Linked DNA regions of Homo sapiens. The protein of the gene in region 1 purifies or fractionates together with the protein of each later gene. This does not show direct contact. Each region holds a gene or a part of one and is shown on either strand. Other genes may lie near its edges.

Evidence for each region.
Region 2: the proteins of SCML1 (region 1) and ARVCF purify together in Homo sapiens (co-immunoprecipitation; 2 studies listed by BioGRID and IntAct, with this or other methods). This does not show direct contact.

Annotation. Positions count from the first base shown.
Region 1 is NC_000023.11:17,746,256-17,754,492, reverse strand, and holds part of SCML1 (sex comb on midleg-like protein 1), read right to left. Parts: intron 5,094-8,237; coding exon 4,989-5,093; intron 4,600-4,988; coding exon 4,200-4,599; intron 2,679-4,199; coding exon 2,527-2,678; intron 1,236-2,526; coding exon 1,101-1,235; 3' UTR 1-1,100. UniProt on the Homo sapiens protein: Putative Polycomb group (PcG) protein. PcG proteins act by forming multiprotein complexes, which are required to maintain the transcriptionally repressive state of homeotic genes throughout development.
Region 2 is NC_000022.11:19,978,278-19,986,514, forward strand, and holds part of ARVCF (splicing regulator ARVCF), read right to left. Parts: exon of another isoform or gene 5,396-8,237; intron 3,815-5,395; coding exon 3,656-3,814; intron 3,461-3,655; coding exon 2,934-3,460; intron 1,966-2,933; coding exon 1,466-1,965; intron 1,416-1,465; exon of another isoform or gene 1,115-1,415; intron 804-1,114; coding exon 620-803; intron 1-619. UniProt on the Homo sapiens protein: Contributes to the regulation of alternative splicing of pre-mRNAs.

The DNA.
Region 1 (8,237 bases):
TAATTAGAAACATTGCATAGGACGGAGAACTTCCCTGTATGGAAACCAATCTACAGATTGTTTCTTGTCCTCTAAAAAGTAAGTTGAGAGGTACTAATGATGGCAAATAATCCATTTATATTTTACAAAATAAAACATTTCACTAATATATGGCTCATCCTACCTCTGTGGCAATACAAAATGCCATTTCAAATTTTTTTTAAAAAGATTGTGTGAATACTTCGGGTGAGAATAAAATATAAAATACTATCTATATAAAGAATAAACACATAAAATACAGTTATGCCTTTTAAAAGTTTGGACAGACGTATCTTCATAGAGAGATGCAAACAATGAAAGTGTAGTTATAGGTCCAAACTTAGCCAAAATATGACAGTTTTAATATAATAGTTTGTTTGAAAAAAAGTAGTCAGACTTCATCCAAACCACCCTTGCGGTACAATATTTCTTGCATAAAATAACCATTCTATCTATCCTATAGTTTATCTTAAAACTGTTAAGAGCACATAATAAAAGTTTATATGCTTATTTTTTACTCTAAATCTGAATAAATAAAACATATAGAGAAATAATAGCAGAAAGGAAAATAATTTATATGGCTATTCTCTTTCTGGAAACTTGTAGAATACTGCAACATCAGACAGATAAAATACTCCAGAAAGAGATATATATGGGTACACCTTTAAATTCTCTTCTGAGGAATAATTCCCATAGATTCAATCATAGGAGTTGTCAACCCTGATAATACCTCTCTTAGCTGTTTTGGTTCTCTGTATCGAGATGAACCAGAATCAAAGGGTTTTTTTTTTTTTCTGTTTCTTGCATGAAATATATTTGTAAACAATATAATAAAAGTAATTTTTAAAGACCTATAAAGAATGAATTTTCTATTGGACTATTCTAATACTATCTAGCAGTTTAAATGGTTTTTAAAGAAGTAGACTGGACTATAACATAGTTCTACAATTCTAGCTATAATATATTTTGAGAGATACTTTCTACAAAACAAAAACGACTAAAGGGCAGAAAAATGATTCCACACTAAGAAGGCATTGGTGCCTCTAGAAGTTGGCCCAATCTAAATTTGCACAAGGATTTTTTCAATTTTCAAAGCATTTTCCTTGTTTAAGTCGGTCAATGTAGTAGCATAGCTTCACAGCCGTTCCCAGCTTCACCCCCAAGTGCTTCAGCAACACGTCACTCGTGAGTAGGAGCAGAGCCTTCCCGTCAATTTCCTATGGAGAGAAGAAACTTAACGATAATTAATAATGCTTCCATATTTTCATCAGAATGGTTAGTTCTTTATGAGAACATGTAAAGCAAACTAGAGAGCAGCTCATTGCAGATGTATATTCTCTGAATATGCGTCTACTTTATGAAAACTATTAAAAATATAACTTGTACAGTGAAGCACCGTTTGGTAATGTATAAACTCATTTCAAGTTCTGAGAAAAAGGAAATTTAACATAATATCTTAAAAAATAAACTGTGTCAAACTTAATTTTAAATATATACTGTATGTTGAATAAAATACTACACATCCATGACAAAATAGTAAAGACTATGAATAGTAAAAATGAATTTCAGATGTTCATTAACTTTCTGAGAAGGGCTGGGAAGATGAGTACGTCAACATCAGTGCAAACTGTAAATGTCTATACAATGTTGTCTTTATGATGAATGCCAATTAGTTGTCTGAAACTAATTAGATGCTAAAACTAATCACCAATTTTCTTACTATATTAAAAATCAGATATGTGGCTACTAATTTTGTTAGGACACACTGTGAAAATATCTGAATAAATAAAACATAGTCACAAAGCATTCTCCTAAAATTCCTTATCTTAATTGATCAACTTATGCTGCTGAAGCATATGATTTGGTTTTATATGTTCCAGTTAAAAAATAAAATTTTATTTACTCATTTAACACTATCTGAAAAGGTCTGAAATCCCTTATAGTACAACCTTTGTTTGGCACCTTCTATACTTTTTCTACTAAGTAAAACTCAAAATTAAAGAAACTAGAACTTACAAAACTTCGGCCTAGGATATTACTTTGTAAATGGTCTGATAATAGCAAGAGGGTATTAGCATTACAAATCATCAATAATCGAGGCAAATGGAATCAGTTGTTGAATCACTGGTTATATAAAACGAAGGCCACCCTGTTATAGCTTGTGGTTACCCCCTCCTCCTCGTGGTCCTGGTGCCCAGCTGGGAGCAGATAGGGGGAGGATCTTTGTATCTGTCATTACAAAGGGGAGGTACACCTGAGTGGCCATGCTGAATCATCATGTCTTAAGAAGCTGAGGCAGTTTGTATTTTAGGCACTTCTACACCCATTTAAAGAACAGACCATTAGCCTACCATTTAAGGCTAACCTTGGGCAAAATAAGCTTTCTCATATATGGAAAAATCAGCTAATAGGGTTCTCCCACCATTCACACAGTATCCAACTGAAAGACCTGCACAGAGGTCATTCAAAGGCATTACAGCAGGAAAACAGGATCAAAAGATACATTACATGGCTTCTGAAGAGGTCGACAAGAGGGCATAATGCAAGAGGATCTGTTTGTTTTAGAAATAGGACCACTGCTTCCACCGACCAGGTTGAAGGGTGCTTAGTGATGCTTCCTTCCTCTATGTAACCGTCATTTTCAACTGGTGACCTTGTAACTTCAATGGAGAGGGGGAAAAGAAAAAAAAGACAAATCACACTCGACCTGATCATTATCCTGAAAGAAGAGATGTTAGGTAAGGAGGAATGCTCTCTTTGTTGGAACCTTCTGTGATGTTCCTAGCAAGGAGTCAAGACTCCAACTGTAAAATCTAGTGAAAGCCTATATAAAGATGATGTGGGGATGCCTACACAAGAGTGTCCCATCTGACCTCCCCTAAATAGCAAAAGCTGGTTCAGAAGTTACATTAAAGTTTCAAAGATCACAAAACAGACTAAGTAAACCAAGTCTTCTTTGGCCACAGGCAAATATGGCAAAAGATCTGTCACTTGGGTAAAATTAGGTTAATCTAACCTAACCTATGACTCTCTTCAAGTATTTCAAGGAATTTCTCTCTTAATCTATCTAGATTAGGTTAATTTTACTAGCAAAATATAATGGAAATTCTCCAAATTTACAGTTTTATAATTGCTTAAATTTGTTCCTTTTAATCAATGAATCTCAATAACAACCCCATTATCTTTAAGAACCAAATTAGTACTTTTATCAAATCTTCCCCACGTATTCAATAAGGTTATTTTTAGTATCGCTTTACTTTTTAGATTCCTGTCTCTCGTGGCTTAAGTGCTAATGTGCATTGTGAAGAAAACAAGATTATTTTCTGCTGAACTAGGTCAGAAGTAACTAACATTTTATTTAATTCCTCTTTCATGTTTAATTGCATAGTAATAGAGATTTTGGTCAAAGGTTTATATGTTTAAAAAATAACTGAGATATGAGACAGTTTAACTGCTCATACTTCAGAAAGTTTTAGCTATGCTCTACACTAAGTTGTGTTGAAATTTCTTTGTGTACTGACAAGTATCCTTTTACTCACCCACAGTGTTAGACTCCCTAAAATTAGTGTGTGATGACTAAAGTGGGTTTTGTAATTAGTTAGGAAAATTTGTTTCTCCAACCAGGACCATCAACACAATTTGATCTTTTTGTGTGTGTGAATTAGCCAAAAACATACCCTTTCTTCCCTACCATCTGGGCTCTTGCCATATCAGGAGTGTTTTTTATTTATCTAGGGAAAGGGTAAATAAAAATAGAAGATTTGGAAAAGCACAATGGGGCAGAGTTCTAGAAGTGCTACTCACCAGCTCTGTGATCGTGGGGATGGCGTAATAAATGTGCCAAAACCATGGGGTCATTATGAGTATAAGTGGAGAAGAGGCATGTCAGCTGATTGGTGCAGTGCCTTGCACATAATATGCATTGAATAAATGTTAGTCATCATTCTGAATATCACCTAAAACCAGCCCTCAAAATAGGAAACGAACAGCTTCCACTAGTTTGCATCAAGGATGTTGATAAATATAGGTCAAATAGTGCTACTTGTAAATATGGCATTTCAAACTCACCAAACCAGAAGGGAAGCAGAGAGATGATCCAGTATACCTATTCTCCATCAAAGCTGAGTAACTCATCATCTCAGGGGCATGTACCAAATTGGGCTCTCCCTGGGCCAGCATACCTGAAGGTGGTGCTGCAGAAGCATGGTCAGTTGAGTAAGTGTTGTGGATGCTGTCAGCCCGAGGGTTGCCAAGGCAGAGCCCTGAAGAAGAACCATACGTTGCACCATCAGATGCATAATACGGCTGACAATTATGCTCAGAGAAATCTGAGGGATGCACTGGACTCGGAGTGCGGCTGAGGATCGGGTCCTCCTCCAGCTCAGCTCGCTGGTATTCTTCCATGCAAAAGGATGGCCTTGGAAGGTTGCTCGGGGAATTATTCTCACGCCTTGACACTGGTAAAGTGGGGCTGTAACTTTCAGGGTAGGAGAATGTCTCGTAAACCTCATTTTTCTTCATTTTCTGGAGTTTAAGCTTTTTAACAAGCCGGTAAGAATGCTTTTTATATCCATATCGCTTCTGAAATCACACAAACACAGCATAAACCAACAGTGAGTAAAAAAGTAAATAAAATTAGTAGCAAATACATTAATACTTATTTTCCATGCAACATTGCTTTACATTATTAAAAATAAATGGTCCCTTTTGATTATATAATTCTTCAATCCTACATTTTAATTGTATTTTACACATTATAATTACAAACATAAAAATAGGCAGCATCATAAATTATCAAACCTAAACTTCAGCGTTCTCCCAACAGAGTTTAGTCTCCATCTACTGTTACAAGTATAGACATGCCTTGCTAATCTCACACAGATACTGGTACTCTCTCACTTCTAGCTCATTGGCATCTTTACAAACCAGAGGTTTATCACAGTTGTAAAAATGTTTTTTATAACACTTACATGATTTGTCCACAGGGATCTCGCATGGAAACGTTGGATTTTTGAAACCTTTCTACGAATCACATCAATCTTCTTATCCAGGTTTTGCAGAGCATCATATATAACCTATTATAATACAATGTAGTCATATAATTGGTATACAATGTAAAATATAATTTTTTATTTCAAAGAAAAGTAACGTGAAAATACCATTAAGTCAAATGTTAACTGCTAGACACAACAAAAGTTCTCAAGCCATCAGAAATGTCTTGCTCCTATTCAAGGCCTGGCTGTAGGTGACACAGAGCCAACAGGCTGAGCTAGAGTAGTCCCCTCCCCTGCTCTACTCCATGTAGGAATTGAGGAAGCTCTAATGCTGGTGAATGAATGTCCCACAATGCCTCTATGCTAGCACATTGATGATGAAGACACTGCACATCAAGGAAGGTGCTATTTTAGGAAAGAAATCTGCTAAAAGAACAAAGACTCACTTTATGATATACATATGTAACATATATGTTCATATATGTACAAATATGAAGTCTATATTATATACAGACAGTGAGTGTTCCACTCCAGAAAGAACACTGAACCAAATATAACAGATGTGACTTTTGGCTTCAAAGTATTTTTAAATCACGCAGTCAGCAATTAATCTTACAAAACCGTTAAGTACACATCTCTTACGCGCCAATCGAACACATAGGAGACTGATAAAAGTCTGAGAATTCTTCTTGAAATACACAGAGACTTTGGGCAAAGAAAAATACACTTAAGCAAAGGGCCAGAAACATTGCAATCAAGCACATAGGAGGCTGATAAAAATCTGAGAATTCTTCTTGAAATACACAGAAACTTTGGGCAAAGAAAAATACACTTAAACAAAGGGCCAGAAACATTTCCTCATTCATTCATTCATTCATTCATTCACTCATTCAACTAAACCTTTATTGATGGCCTACCACCTGGCAGAACTACTTTGCTAGGTATTGAGAACATGGACCGAAAAAAAAAGCTCCTGGCCGGGTGCGGTGGCTCATGCCTGTAATCCCAGCACTTTGGGAGGCTAAGGCAGGTGAATCGCTTGAGCTCAGGAGTTGGAGACAAGCCTAGGCAACATGGCGAAACCCCCGTCTCTACCAAAAATACACAAAATCAGCCAAGCGTGGTGGTGCATGCCTGTAGTCCATGCTACTAGGAAGGCTGAGGTGGGAGAATCACCTGAGCCTGGGAAGTTGTGGCTGCAGTGAGCCATGACTGAGCCACTGCACTCCAGCCTGTCCTAGAGGAACTACCATCTCAGCTGGGAGAGAGACAAGTAAAAAGAGGATTCCAGCAGACAAAGTGATAAACAGCCTGGAACAGTGGTTTGCAAAGTGTGGTCCACGGACTGGTAGCATCAACATCACCTGTAAGCTCATCAGAAATGCCAAATGCCAGGTTGTACCCCAGACCTATGGAACCTGGAACTCTGAGAGTGGGGGCAGTGGTCTATGTTTTCACAAGCCCCCCAGGTGATTCTGATGGCCCTAGTGAGAACCACAGGGCTGCGGCACTGAGATAAACAGTGCAGGCTCTTGGGGAACATGGTTGGGGTCAAATACTACAGTCCAGCCACTTATTGGCTGTGTGACCCAGGGCAAGTTACTTAACCTCTCTGTGCTTCAGTGTCCTCATGTAGGGAATCAGGATGAAAAGCTCTCTCAGGGTTCTCTCGAGGACGAGAACCTTGCTATAGTATTAGGTTAATACTAACAGTAACAGCACTACACTACACCCGGTCCAACAGTGCTCAGTGGTCTCTTCATGTTACTATTGTTATTACCAGTGGCGTGACACAGGTGGGAACAGGAGGCTAAGCCTGCACAGAAAAGCAGTCCTAACCCAGGCTGCAGTCACGGAGACCTTTTCAGAGGAGGTGAGGTCTGAAGTGAGAATTAAAACATGAGAAGGCCCTCGCCAGGTGAGGATGCATGGAAGGGCTTACAGCATAGAAGGAACAGCAGGTTCATAAATACCCAGAGAGAAAAACAGGAAGCCAGGTGTGGAGACAGCAAGTATGAATGACATTCCAGGAGTGGGGCTGTCACAGGAAGAAGAGAGTGAGGATGACAGGAAAGGAGGGATGGGAAGCAAGAGAAGTGGCTTCTCCAAGATGTGGGAGAACTCGTAGAGGGGAAGGAGGGACAGGGACTGGAGCCAGAGGAGAGAGAGGGGGATGCCCGATGGGGGGCAGCTCTGAGTTCAGGGAGGGGACTAGATGCAGAAAGCAGCAAGGGTGTCAGCCCTGGTCACTAGAATGGCCGGGAAGGGGTCAGAAGAAGGGCAGGGATGAGGGCAGTTGGTTGGCTGTGGGGACAGTTATGAGGACTCGGAGGAGAGGACTGCCCCAGGTGCTCCACTATCTCCACGAGTGAAGAGGCAGGACTAGGGAGCTGAGGTAGGCAGGGGATGGCGAGGTCTTCCTCTGCTTCCAGACTAAGCAGGATGGAGACAGACTCAAGAGGGAACTGGGATGAAAGAACAAGGCAGGCTGGAGTGCCACCTCTGTGATCTAGAACGGGTAGGGGAAGAAAGAGCCAGCCCCTTGGCAGCAATGGAGAGGGGCCCTTGGGGCCATTTCAGGCTGACCATGGCCCTGGACACCTCCCCCCACAGATGCTACCTCCCACCTCAGCGTATAAGCTGACCTAGACCATGACCTAGCAGTGCATGGGGAGGCAGGCTGGGGAGAACCTGCTCCCTCCCTTCCCAGCTCGCCTCTGCACCCACTTCCCCCCAAGACTGTATGTGTCCCTTGGAAGCACTCCACTTCTGTTCTCCTCCATGATCATGATAAACACCCAAACAATTTTACTTTCCAAAGTATGTTAGCTCATTCCATTCAAGAAACCTTATATATGGTAAGAAACATTATATATATATAAACCTTCATTACCTCTGGGGTATGCAACTCACAAAATTCCCAGTAATCACATCTCTACCAACATGGTGATTCTTAAAACAACTCCTCAAAACTACCTTAGGTATGTTTCTTTACTAAACCTTGATGGGCTGCCACTTTGTTTCCATTGAGATATCTTGATGTGCATTTAGGCACATACTAAATTTCATCCAAATCAGTCAATTTCCTTTAAGGATTTTGTAGGGGAAACTAATTTAATACTGAGCAATGTAGATGAAAGAGACATAACTACATTTGGTTGGTAATGGGCTTTTTAAAAAGCTATTAAATCTACATGTTGCTATTCAGGAAATGTGGTTCTAACT
Region 2 (8,237 bases), on another chromosome or scaffold:
GACAACTATCTTGGCTGGGGATAGCTGGGCAGGGAAAGACAGGGTTTCCCTGCCTCCCAGCTGACCTGGAAAGGGACAGGTGCACTCTCAGAGAGACCTGAACCTGTGCAAGGGCAATTCTGGGTCCCTCGCCACCCCAATGGCAGCTCTGGGCCCCACCTTACCCCAAGGTCAAGAGCCTGCAGGGCTGCGCGGGAACACCCTGATGGACAAGCAGGACTGTGGGGACCCAGGACTCTGTGGGGTCAGCAGGGCCTCCCAGGGGTAGGAGGGGAAGGGCAGAGGTCACAGGTGGCTGGGATGAGCCTCCCAGGCAGATGAACAGGAAGGTCCCAGCTCCCCCTCTGGCTGTCAAGTGATGGGAAGGTAGGTGAGAGCTGGGCAGGGCTACGGTACCACAGAGACCCCTCCAGAGGGTGCCCCTGGGAAGACTGGGACACCACTTGGGGGTGAGGACAGCTCCATCAGGCCCCACTTCTCATCCACAGGACTTGTGCCACAGCTCTGAAGCTCCTAAGCTCTGGCGCTCCTAAGCTCGCCGCCATCTTCCACACTATCTGGGACCACGAGGACGGGGCCTGGTGTGCATGTGGGCTTTAGCACCAGGTCTGGTCCACACCTCAGGCAGCCCGACGTGTTCTTGAAGACAGTTGTCCACTCGGCGTCCCGTGGCTTGGAGTCCTCGTTGGGCTCACGCTCCCATCCTGAGTGGGGCACGATCACCTCGTGGGTCAGCGTCTGCAGGCCATGGTCAATGATGACCATCTTCAGGGGCTCATAGGATGACAGGTTCCACAGGGTGCCTGTGGGGTGCGATTGGCCAATCTGTGCTGACCATATGCACCGCCTGCCTACCTCCCCAGGTGGCCACGCTCAGGACCTGTCCCACTCTCCTCATGTCCCAGCTCATGCAGAACAGTAGGAAGTAACAAAAGCCGTGAGTGGTTCCGGGGGACACCCAGTACTGGTTTCCAGCTAGGAAGGAGCCCCAAAGGGGAGGAGGTGCAGAGGAGGGTGTGGCAGTGCTGTCCCGTCCCACCCATTCCCTGCCATGTGGCAGGTGGCACTAACACTCCTGAGGCCACAGGGCCTCACAGAGACACGGTGACCCTACCTGTCCCTCAGCTCTCACAAGGCACAAGCCCCACCACTGCACGGTTGGGGTGGGAACCAAGGAGGTGGGTCCCAGGAGAGTTTCTGTGGGGGCAGGAGGTGTGAAGGCAGGAGGTGAGGGGACATGCCCGAGGGGCGCAGCGTCAGCCTCCCTGCTATGGTAGAGACTGGGGAACCTGTCACAGTGTCTGGGCCTGATGCCTGGCTCCTGGGGCAAGCGTCTCAGCAGCTGCACTCCTGCCTACCGGGTGCTTTCCCAGGCGGTCGCAGGCCGAGTGGCCTCGTTCCTCCCGGGTTGAGCCTCACACTCTTCTCTTCCCAGGGGATGTGAGCATGGCCAGGTCCCACTCACCAGTGACAAGCTCACGGACCTCGTTGTCCCGGGCAGCCCTCAGCAGGCGCACCAGGGCAGGCACACCACCGCAGTCCCGGATGGCGGCCTTGTTGTCAGTGTCGCGGCCATAGGAGAGGTTGCGCAGTGCCCCACAGGCCCGGCGCCGCACCTCAGCCCGCGGGTGGTCCAGCAGTGCCACAAGCAGCGGCAGCCCCCGCAACTGCCGTACACGCCGCTTGACACCCTCGTTCTCAAAGCACAGATGCTGCAGGTAGGCGGCCGCATTGGCCTTCACGGGGTCCACGGGGTGCCGCAGCATGGCCAGCACCTCAGGCAGCTCAGGGTCCCGCCAGCGCGGCTCCTTGCGGGCGCTATCCACTGAGGGCGAGCGCCGCACCAGCCGGTCCAGGCTGCCCATGCTGCCCCGTTCAGGCTGGGCCAGGGGCGCCGTCACCATTGGGAACGCAGGCCGCTCGTCCGCCAGCTCGCCGCCATCATCTGCTGTGTCCTCGTAGGCCCTGCACAGGCAAGTGGGGCGCGTGGACATCGTCACAGCAGCCGCCAGCCCTGCCTCTGAGCTGCCCCATCACACCTTCTTCAGGACTGCAAACTCACCCAGCAGCGCTGGGCTGAGAGCACCTGTATCTTGGCCCGGAGCATGGTGGGGACACAGAGAGTCATGCACCAGCCCAGTGAGAACCAATTCAGAGCCAAATGCCAAACCCCAGCCAGCGGCTACCAGGACCCAGGCAACCCTCCCAGGACAGCAAACTCACTCACTGCTGTCACCGGGCAGTTTCCCAATCCCGAGCAAAACAAGTTTCTGTGAGACATCTGCTATGGCTGCTGGAGAGACCGTCTCACCTCCCTTCCACAAAACCACCCCATCTTCCATGAGGCCCATCTCTGGCTGTGCCAGGATGTAGGGGGAGTAAATGGCCCTCTCCGCATGAAGCCATCCCAGTAGGACCACCTGAGGAGTATTCAGGCCACCAGCCCCTTGGGGCACAAGATCTCCTTAGCTCTCAGTAGCCCTGTGGGTTGCTGTCATCAAACCGCCTGCCCTGAGGCTAGGAGTGACGGTCAGGTGACTTGGCCAGGGTCACACAACAAAATCCTGACCCGGGCTGTGGTCACATCCCCACTCCAGAGATGCAGAAACTGAGGGCAATGGGGACAGAACCAGGGGCTGTGACAAGGGCCAGGGCTCTGGGTTCTGGTTACCCAGAGTGTGGCTGGAGCAAGGCCAGTGGCCGGCACTCTTCCCAGCTTTCCTGGGCCCTGGGCCTGCAGGACAGTGCCCAGCCGAACTCCTACCACCCCAGGGTCCACCTTTCTTCTGTCCCTGACGAGAGCCAAGGCCAATTCAAACTAACATGCATGACTAACTCAACTGCGCCACTTGACAAGTGGGGCACTCTGTAGTTGGGGGGTGGAGGGCAGACTTCCCAGAGGAGGTAGCCACAGGGGACGGGGTGCAGCTCACCTGGTATGAAGGCCCCGCCCACACTCAGGCCTCCTCCTTGTGGCCGTGCCATAGTCAGGCTCCAGCTCAGGGCCACCCTCGTCATCAGCGGCCAGGCTGCGCGTGTCATCCTCCAAGCCATACGGCTCTGCCTGGAAGCGCTCGGGCAGGGAGCGGCCACCTGGTGGCCCAGGCTCAGGACCCACCGGGAAGGCTTCCCGGTGGCCAGGCAGTGTGAAGCAGCCATCACCAGGGCCTGGGCCAAGGGGGCCAGCACGTGGGGGCCGCATGCCCAGCCCTCGGGACAGGCTGCCATAGCTGGGGCTGTCCCGGGGCTCGGGGCCTTCGGGAAAGCCACCCCCACTGCTGAGGTAGGCTCGAGAGAGTGTGGCCACTGGGCCACCACCACGCAGCAGGAAATGCCGGTCCAGGGCACCATCTGCAAAAGGGCCTAGTGGGGGGCCGCCATCCAGCAGGGGGAGTCCATCTGGGCCCACGGGCACCTGGCGTACTGTCCGAGTGGTCACCGTCTTGACAGTCTTGGTGACCTGGTGGATGGATAGGCAGGTAGGTGGGGTAGCACGAGAGGCCTAGAAACTGCTTTGCTGGGGTCTGGCTGGCCTTAATTTCCCACTCGAGCAATGAGAGGCCCCACGTGGCAAGCTTCCATGTCCACTCTGCAGGTGGGACAGCTGCAGCAGCCTGGCCCTGCTCACCCACCCACTGCCTGGGCCTGGCCATACCTTGGTCTCGGTGCGCCGGGTTGTGCCATCTTCGGATGTGACAATAGACACATGGGAAGTGGGTGTGCCGGGGTCCTCCTCCACCGTCACGGTCTCCTCCAGCACATCAGGTGCCTCCGGCATCGTGGCCAGTGAGGCCTGGCTGCCTGGGCTCTGCTCCTGGGGCAAGGAGGGACATTGGTGGGCAGGCCTGCTGCTCAGTCACCCCTGGAGTGCAGGTCTCCACACACAGCAGCTCTGCCTCAGCTCATGCTGGCCAGCACACCAGGGTGCCTTCCTCCTGGTCCTGAACCCACCCACCCCAAGGCCTGTTTCGGCCCAAGCTGACAAGGACAGCAATAAGTTCTTGCCCTCTGAACATCGAGGTGCTAACCCTGCCCCGGCACCCCATCCTGGGGGGACCCTGGGGCTGGACCCCCATCTCAGGTCTCCTCAGGCTGAGTTGGCAGATAAGGACATAGACCCTGGGGGGTGAAGTCTTCAGGGCCCTCCCCAAGCTGCATGGCCTGGCTGCCACAGGCTCCTCCAGGCCCCAGGAGGTGCCAGTGAGACCTGCAGCATGCCTTCCTGATGTCAACCACCACCCCTAGCTGGGACATCATGGTGTCCTGGGGCCTCCTCCCTCACCTGCCCCAGACACCTTGAGTATAGAAGCCTTGTGGGGGCTGTTTCAGCACTGCCTACTGACTCCTGTGGCCACACTAAGGTTCCCGCCACCAACGCCAGCCAGACGCCCTCAAGGGACAGAAATACGCAGTTCCCAGAACACCCCATGCACCTGCAGCACCAGTATGTCCTTATTCCTTCCAGCCCAGACATTCTTGAGTGTTGTGTAGGCACAGGTTTGCCCTACCTCGGGCCAGTGGCTGGCGCCCCCAGTGACTGAGACTCTGGGCATCATATCAGAGACCAGACACAGTAGATTTGAGCCTATGGGTGCCCTTGCCACCATTCTGCATGGGGTGACGACACTGGAATTCTAGGCAAGACAACTCTGGACTGAGACTTTTCTATCCACATGCCTACTGACTGGACTTGCCAGTGGGGAAACTGAGGCTCAAAGAGGATAGGCTGGCCCACATCAGAGCCAGGCCCAACCCCTGCCGCGCTGAGTGGCTTGAGGACCTAAGACTCACAGCCTGCCCCGGGCCTCTGACTGCACAGGTGCCTGGCCCCAGGGCCACATGGCACCAACATCCGGGGATCGGCATCTAGCCAGGATGGGCAGGAGCTGAAACCCAAGCCCTGGTGGGTGGGTCAGGCGGAGCACATTCCCAGGCAGCCAGGGCAGGGTCAGCAGGAGGACAGGTCCTGCTTTGTGGCCCAGGCCCCTGGTCCCTGCACAATGGGTCCCTTGCCTGGGCCCCCTGGGGCCTGCACAGACACTAAGCTCTGCCAGGCTCCAGAGGCAGACTCTGCCCATTCTTGGGCCTGGGAGGTGAGCCAGGTTAGATGCTCAGCGCTGCCCTCAGGACCTGCCTGCCAAGGCTCGTGGGCTGGGAAGCCTCCCCAGGTCAGGGTCCTATCCTGGGGGAATACTTGACCCCCAAATGCATGCAGTGCAGGTGTCCAGGAAGGGGCCTGCACCAACATGTTAGGACAGGTGTATCCCTCAGGCTGACAGAGGAAAGAAGTGGCCACAGAAGGCACCTCCCCCTCTCCCACAGGCAGGGTCTTGGAGGATGACAGATAACTTTATAGATGGGGAAACTGAGGCCTGGCAGGGGGAAGAGGATTTACCTAGAACTTCACAGTCCAAGTGGGATTTCAAGCACCCCCAGAGAAGGCAATCTGGCAAGGAAGGCTTTGGGCCTCATCTCGCCCTCAGTCTTGAGATGTAGGTGGAATGCCTGCTGTGGACCTGGCTAGGAAAAGGGGACCTGTTCCCTGGGAAAAAGAAATAGACTGAGGCCTAGAGTGGGGACAACTGGCACGCTGCCAGGCAGGGCAGGCTGGGCTCTTCTCCAAAGGCACTGGGGAGCTGGGACTGCTCTGAAGCAGGAGAAGGCTTGTGTGGCCCATCACTGCTGGGGCTGGGCTGCCCCATCTGTATCTGGCAAATGTGTGTCAGGCCCTGAGCTCTCTCTGCTGGGCCCTGGGCGGGGCTCATCTGAGTTCAAGCAGGGGCCCAGGCACTGAGGGGCTGCAGTTCTGGCGACAGAGTGAGGAGGGTATAAAGCAAGACTGAGGAAACGTTACCCAGGACTCTGCCAGTGGGATGTAGCCCCTCATATATGTATATATTTACATCTATTAAAAACTCAGAGAAAAACCCCCTCTTCCCTAGCTAGGCAGTGGGGGTAAGCGGGAGAGGAAAAGGGGAGGACATCTCAGGACCCCGATGCCACTCTGTGGCCCAGCTTATCCCTCCCACCAAGGCTGTGGTGAGGGTCTGACAGGCAGAGCTGGGGTGGTCCAGGAGAGCCACGCCCCCGCAGCAAGACCTGGCAACCCTGCGGCACCACCCATCAGCCCCGGCCTAGCAGCCCCGCAGTAGGATCCAGAGGCCCCAAGAGTCCCTGCTGGCAAATGACCTCAGGGAGCTAAAAACGAGGGATGACTTCACCCGGGTGGCAGGTGCATGAGTCAGCCAGTGATCACAGGAAAGCCCGGCCCCTGCTACACATGCCCAGGCACACACACATGCATATACATGACCCCTCAGACAGGGACACATGCATGTACATACACGTGTGCAAGTACCCAGCCCGGCACAGGCCGAGCACATCAACCCGTGTGCTCTAACAGCACCCCAAGGGCACGGCGCCCACTGTTCCCAGAGGCACACTCGTGAGCACACATCCTCCCGTCCTCCACCGTGTATCGGAGACCCTTATCCATGCAGGGCCTCACAGAGTCTCAACACACAGGGACAGGGGCCACCAACTCTGCCAATCATCTGCCCAGCATCCACTCTGGGAGTCTCAGAGCTGGCTGGCAGATGGAGAAACTGAGGTGTAGAGTAGTGAGAGGCCCATAGCCAGCTGGTGGCTCAGCTCTCTGCAACATCTTTAGGGTGGGGCTGTGGAATGGTGGGCTGACTCTCAACAGGAGTTGGCTGCAGTCCCTGGATCCCTGTCTGGCCCCAGTGTCCATGTCTGACGTGCACCTGCCCAGGCTGGCCCACTCTCAGGGACCCTGGCCCTGCAGCCCCACACAGCCTCTGCCTCAGACCCAACTCTGGGCTGCTCCCCTCTGTACCCTAGACATGGGCTCTACCCTGAACACCCCACCTCCAGCCCAATCCCACATGCTGCATCCTGTCAGTCGTCTCTCATCACCCCCTCCCCAGCTGGGGCCCCATCCTTGCTCCTCTTGCACCCCGCCCGGCCTCCCAGCACTCATCCCTCCCTTGGCTCTTCAATCTCTGGTGCACCAGGTCTGGGGCCCCCAGGACTGGCCCAGAAACAGGCTGCTGCCCAGGCCTGGGGTTTCCCATGAGCTCCCTTGGGCTTGTGGGAGGGGCCAGAGTGACCAGGGAGGTAGACCACCTACCCCTGCTCACAAGAGGGTCCCGGGAACACAGGGCTGAGCCCAGCATAGGGGCTCTGGGCCCCATCACGCACCTTCGGCTCAGCTTCTTCACAAGGAGGTGAGAAGGACAGAGGGGGCTGGGGTCGTGGGACGTGCTGGGTAGCATCAGTCTCACTTTTGTGGCAAAATGCAAGGAACACAGGGAGCAGAAAAGCAAGATTGGACCAACACACAGAGGGATGCTGGGGCACAGGTGGCTGGGCCCTGGTCCCATATTACTTATCTACCCAAACCACCGGACTTCACAGATGCACCACGGTCTGTGTCCTGAAGAACAGACTGCAGGGGCAGGCCCCTCCCCTGTCCAAGGCCTGGCTAGCACACACAGAGAATGAGTTAAGGTGAGATTGCACACCTGGATCCCACACCTGCAGGCCAGGCTCCCAGAGGGCAGGAGGTGGCTGCTGTCCGATGGATGAATGAATGAATCTTCTCCATCCCCATTATGGCCCTCCCAGGTAGAGTCCAGGACAAGCCAGGCTGGCATCTCTCACCAGGCAGCAAGCCCTTGGCCACCACAAAATGCCCTTTCCCTTGGTGCCACAGCCTCTGACCAGTCTCCAAGACCTGGAGCTTACTTCTCCACACAGCAGTGCACCTGCCAGGGCGTGGCCCCAGGCAGAGATGCCAAAAAGCCAAGCTGGGGGAGCAAACTTGGGGTGGGAGAGCAGGGCTGACTGTCATCCACCTCAGCTTCCCCAAGCTCAGCTTGGGGTCATCAGACACACTGTGACCATGGATTTCCCAAAAACTGGTCCCTCCACCTCTGAGGGCCAGACCCTGGGGGCCACACCAGGGCCGTAGGACAGGCAGGGGCCTAGTTGCCCAGGTAGCAGGTGTGTGGGAGACCTGCCTCCCACCACAGAGGGTCTTGGCTGGTCTCTCCTCTGCTCAGTTTCCCTGCCTGTTACTGAACCCAGCACTGCTCTGAGCAGAGGACAAACTGCCTATGCCTCCCCCCACCTCAATGCTGAGAGGGGGAGGATCCCGTTTTCCTTAGAGATCTCCTCCAGCATCCATTAGTGGGCAGGGCCTGTCTCTATCCCTC